Regions from separate parts of the Homo sapiens genome. Here region 2 is linked to region 1. Evidence: fine-mapped expression QTL. A gene starts in region 1. The other region holds a variant in brackets. All regions are shown on one strand. Distances are between the middles of the regions. Region 1 holds the start of ITGAM (integrin subunit alpha M). Region 2 has its middle 13 kb from the start of ITGAX.

Evidence for each region. PIP is the estimated chance that this variant, and not a neighbour inherited with it, causes the effect.
Region 2: its variant is the best candidate, but not a certain one, in a credible set for the expression of ITGAM in whole blood (INTERVAL, PIP 0.55).

Annotation. Positions count from the first base shown.
Region 1 is chr16:31,258,279-31,261,203 of GRCh38, forward strand. ITGAM (integrin subunit alpha M) reads left to right here and starts at 1,697. Exons shown (of 30, transcript NM_000632.4): 1 at 1,697-1,814. The coding sequence starts at 1,787. RefSeq lists an enhancer at 1,454-1,553.
Region 2 is chr16:31,340,248-31,343,172 of GRCh38, forward strand. No RefSeq gene overlaps it. Among named protein-coding and RNA genes, the nearest start is that of ITGAX, 13 kb to the right of the region's middle. The variant A/G (reference allele first, on the strand shown) is at 1,238.

The sequences.
Region 1 (2,925 bases):
TTGCAAATATATATATATATATATATTTTTTTTTTTTTAGAGATAAGAGTCTTGCTCTGTCGCCTAGGCTGGAGTGCAGTGGCACAATCTCTGCTCACTGCAACCTCCGCCTCCAGGGTTCAAGTGATTCTGCTGCCTCAGCCTCCCAGGTGGGATTACAGGTGCCTGCCACCACGCCTGGCTAATTTTTTTGTCTTTTTAGTAAAGATGAGGTTTCACCATGTTGGGCAGGCTGGTTTCAATTGCTGACCTCAAGTGAGCCACCCCGCCTCAGCCTCCCAAAATGCTAGGATTACAGGCATGAGCCACCGCACCCAGCCAAGTTTGTACATATATTTTTGACTACACTTCTTAACTATTCTTAGGATAAATTACTAGAAGTGAAAATTCTTGGGTGAAGAGCTTGAGGCCTTTACACACACACACACACACACACACAAAAATAGGCTGGATGCAGTGGCTCACACCTGTAATCTCAGCAGTTTGGGAGGCTGAGGAAGGAGGATCACTTGAGTCCAGGAGGTTGAGAATAGCCTGAACAACATAGCAAGATCTTGTCTCTACAAAAAATTTAAAAAAAATTAGCTGGCCATGGCAGCATGTGCCTGTAGTACCAGCTACTCGGAAGGCTGAGGTAGGAGGATCGCTTGAGCCCAGGAGGTTGATTGAAGCTGCAGTGAGCTGTGATTACACCACTGCACTCCAGCCTGGGCAACAGAGCTAGACTCTGTCTCTAAAAAAAGCACAAAATAATATTTAAAAAGCACCAGGTATGCCTGTACTTGAGTTGTCTTTGTTGATGGCTACAAATGAGGACAGCTCTGGCTGAAGGGCGCTTCCATTTCCATGGGCTGAAGGAGGGACATTTTGCAAAGTGTGTTTTCAGGAAGACACAGAGTTTTACCTCCTACACTTGTTTGATCTGTATTAATGTTTGCTTATTTATTTATTTAATTTTTTTTTTGAGACAGAGTCTCACTCTGTCACCTGGGCTGGAGTGCAGTGGCATTATTGAGGCTCATTGCAGTCTCAGACTCCTGAGCTCAAACAATCCTCCTGCCTCAGCCTCTGGAGTAGCTAGGACTACAGGCATGTGCCACCATGCCTGGCTAATTTTTTAAATGTATTTTTTTGTAGAGTCGGGGTCTCCCTATGTTGCCCAGGCTGGAGTGCAGTGGTGTGATCCTAGCTCACTGCAGCCTGGACCTCGGGCTCAAGTAATTCTCACACCTCAGCCTGTCCAGTAGCAGGGGCTACAGGCGCGCACCACCATGCCCAGCTAATTAAAAATATTTTTTTGTAGAGACAGGGTCTCTCTATGTTGCCCAGGCTGGTTTCAAACTCCCAGGCTCAAGCAATCCTCCTGCCTTGGCCTCCCAAAGTGCTGGCATTACAGGCGTGAGCCACTGCGCCTGGCCCGTATTAATGTTTAGAACACGAATTCCAGGAGGCAGGCTAAGTCTGTTCAGCTTGTTCATATGCTTGGGCCAACCCAAGAAACAAGTGGGTGACAAATGGCACCTTTTGGATAGTGGTATTGACTTTGAAAGTTTGGGTCAGGAAGCTGGGGAGGAAGGGTGGGCAGGCTGTGGGCAGTCCTGGGCGGAAGACCAGGCAGGGCTATGTGCTCACTGAGCCTCCGCCCTCTTCCTTTGAATCTCTGATAGACTTCTGCCTCCTACTTCTCCTTTTCTGCCCTTCTTTGCTTTGGTGGCTTCCTTGTGGTTCCTCAGTGGTGCCTGCAACCCCTGGTTCACCTCCTTCCAGGTTCTGGCTCCTTCCAGCCATGGCTCTCAGAGTCCTTCTGTTAACAGGTGCATGGGGGTGGGGTGGGGGACTCTGGGTGGGGAGGAGGGTAACTTTTGGGTCTGTCATAAATAGAGGGCCCAGAATATGTAGGAGTCAGTCTGGGGAGAGGCAAAGGGGATTTGGGGAAGGAGAAAGGGTTCAAGAAGAAGCAGGGAGAACAGCTAGACCCAGACAGGCTGGCCAGGGAAGCCTGGATGAATGACCACATTCATGGACTGTGCAAGGCTGCTTGCCGGTCCCCTTGCTTCACACATGAGGAGACGGAGGCCCAGGGAGGAGAAGTGACATGGCTCAGGGTGCGCAGCAGGTGTGAGACCCCTTTCCTGAGTGCTTCCTCCTGGATCCCCTCTCACCATCTCCACTTTGCCTCCGGTTCTATTTTCCAAGGTCCCGGGTGCAAATGTTTGTTGAATGACTGATGAATGAAAATGATTTGAGTTTGTTACCTTTTATGCTTATATGTTGTGGAAAATGAAATTCTCCTCAAAAGGGAAGGAAATACTTGAGAGCTGCATAGGAAGGAAATTATCTAATTAAGAATGTATAGAAACTTCACTGTTGGGCAAATCATCGTTGTGACACCGGGGGAAGAAGCCATTTAGGTGCTCAGAAGGGAGGCTGGAATTCAGAGCAGGACTGGACGTGCCCCACGACGGTGGTTCTTAGGTCAGGAGTCAGCAAACAGTGGCCTGGGGGCCCGATATGGCCCACGACCTGTTTTTGCACAACCTGCCAGCTAGAGATTGAAGATGAACACTGATAATCGATTTGATGATAGGGAGCACCACCCCCAAAGAATTCTATTTGTCTCATTTGTAAACCCGTATTACAAACAAATTGTACTCAATCATTATGTTTGAAATTTCCCTAATGACAAATTTGTGGAAAAGTATTTTCTGTCTTGTTATATAAGTACTTGTACAACATATTCTATCAGCCTCTTGGTCTGCAAAACCTAAAATTTACTATCTGGCTGTTTACAGAATAAGTGTGCTAATCCCCGCCCCAGGCTAACAGAGCTGGACCTGGGAGGCAGACATCTGGATGCTGGGTTAGTTAGGGTGACCGAATGGATGGGAAAGGGAATGGAGCAGGAAGACATGCTGCTATCTTTTT
Region 2 (2,925 bases), 82 kb after region 1:
CCAACAAAGATCAAAAGAGACAAAGAAGGCCATTACATAATGGTAAAGGGATCAATTCAACAAGAAGAACTAACTATCCTAAATATATATGCACCCAATACAGGAGCACCCAGATTCATAAAGCAAGTCCTTAGTGACCTACAAAGAGACTTAGACTCCCACACAATAATAATGGGAGACTTTAACACCCCACTGTCAACATTAGACAGATCAACGAGACAGAAAGTTAACAAGGATATCCAGGAATTGAACTCAGCTCTGCACCAAGCGGACCTAATAGACATCTACAAAACTCTCCACCCCAAATCAACAGAATATACATTCTTTTCAACACCACACCACACCTATTCCAAAACTGACCACATAGTTGGAAGTAAAGCACTCCTCAGCAAATGTAAAAGAACAGAAATTATAACAAACTGTCTCTCGGACCACAGTGCAATCAAACTAGAACTCAGGGTGAAGAAACTCACTCAAAACCGCTCAACTACATGGAAACTGAACAACCTGCTCCTGAAGGACTACTGGGTACATAACAAAATGAAGGCAGAAATAAAGATGTTCTTTGAAACCAATGAGAACAAAGACACAACATACCAAAATCTCTGGGACACATTCAAAGTAGTGTGTAGAGGGAAATTTATAGCACTAAATGCCCATAAGAGAAAGCAGGAAAGATCTAAAATTGACACCCTAACATGGCAATTAAAAGAACTAGAGAAGCAAGGGCAAACACATTCAAAAGCTAGCAGAAGGCAAGAAATAACTAAGATTAGAGCAGAACTGAAGGAAATAGAGACACAAAAAACCCTTCAAAAAATTAATGAATCCAGGAGCTGGTTTTTTTGAAAAGATCAACAAAATTGATAGAGCCCTAGCAAGACTAATAAAGAAGAAAAGAGAGAAGAATCAAATAGATGCAATACAAAAATGACAAAGGGGATATCACCACCAATCCCACAGAAATACAAACTACCATCAGAGAATACTATAAACACCTCTACGCAAATAAACTAGAAAATCTAGAAGAAGTGGATAAATTCCTCGACACATACACTCTCCCAAGACTAAACCAGGAAGAAGTTGAATCTCTGAATAGACCAATAACAGGCTCTGAAATTGAGGCGATAATTAATAGCTTACCAACCAAAAAAAGTCCAGGACCAGATGGATTCACAGCCGAATTCTACCAGAGGTACAAGGAGGAGATGGTACCATTCCTTCTGAAACTCTTCCA[A/G]TCAATAGAAAAAGAGGGAATCCTCCCTAACTCATTTTATCAGGCCAGCATCATCCTGAGACCAAAGCCTGGAAGAGACACAACAAAAAAAGAGAATTTTAGACCAATATCCTTGATGAACATTGATGCAAAAATCCTCAATAAAATACTGGCAAACCGAATCCAGCAACACATCAAAAAGCTTATCCACCATGATCAAGTGGGCTTCATCCCTGGGATGCAAGGCTGGTTCAACATACGAAAATCAATAAACGTAATCCAGCATATAAACAGAACCAAAGACAAAAACCACATGATTGTCTCAATAGATGCAGAAAAGGCCTTTGACAAAATTCAACAACCCTTCATGCTAAAAACTCTCCATAAATTAGGTACTGATAGGACATATCTCAAAATAATAAGAGCTATCTATGACAAACCCACAGCCAATATCATACTGAATGGACAAAAACTGGAAGCATTCCCTTTGAAAACTGGCACAAGACAGGAATGCCCTCTCTCACCACTCCTATTCAACATAGTGTTGGAAGTTCTGGCCAGGGCAATCAGGCAGCAGAAGGGAATAAAGGGCATTCGATTAGGAAAAGAGGAAGTCAAATTGTCCCTGTTTGCAGATGACATGATTGTATATCTAGAAAACCCCATCGTCTCAGCCCAAAATGTCCTTAAGCTGATAAGCAACTTCAGCAAAGTCTCAGCATACAAAATCAATGTGCAAAAATCACAAGCATTCTTATACACCAATAACAGACAAACAGAGAGCCAAATCATGAGTGAACTCCCATTTACAATTGCTTCAAAGAGAATAAAATACCTAGGAATCCAACTTACAAAGGATGTGAAGGACCTCTTGAAGGAGAACTACAAACCACTGCTCAATGAAATAAAAGAGGATACAAACAAATGGAAGAACATTCCATGCTCATGGGTAGGAAGAATCAATATCATGAAAATGGCCATACTGGCCAAGGTAATTTATAGATTCAATGCCATCCCCATCAAGCTACCAATGACTTTCTTCACAGAATTGGAAAAAACTACTTTAAAGTTCATATGGAACCAAAAAAGAGCCCACATTGCCAAGTCAATCCTAAGCCAAAAGAACAAAGCTAGAGGCATCACGCTACCCGACTTCAAACTATACCACCAGGCTACAGTAACCAAAACAGCATGGTACTGGTACCAAAACAGAAATATAGACCAATGGAACAGAACAGAGCCCTCAGAAGTAATGCCGCATATCTACAACTATCTGATCTTTGACAAACCTGACAAAAACAAGCAATGGGGAAAGGATTCCCTATTTAATAAATGGTGCTGGGAAAACTGGCTAGCCACATGTAGAAAGCTGAAACTGGATCCCTTCCTTACACCTTATACAAAAATTAATTCAAGATAGTTTAAAGACTTACATGTTAGTCCTAAAACCATAAAAACCCTAGAAGAAAACCTAGGCAATACCATTCAGGACACAGGCATGGGCAAGGACTTCAAGTCTAAAACACCAAAAGCAATGGCAACAAAAGCCAAAATTGACAAATGGGATCTAATTAAACTAAGAAGATTCTGCACAGCAAAAGAAACCACCATCAGAGTGAACAGGCAACCTACTGAATGGGAGAAAATTTTTGCAAGCTACTCATCTGACAAAGGGCTAATATCCAGAATCTACAATGAACTCAAACAAA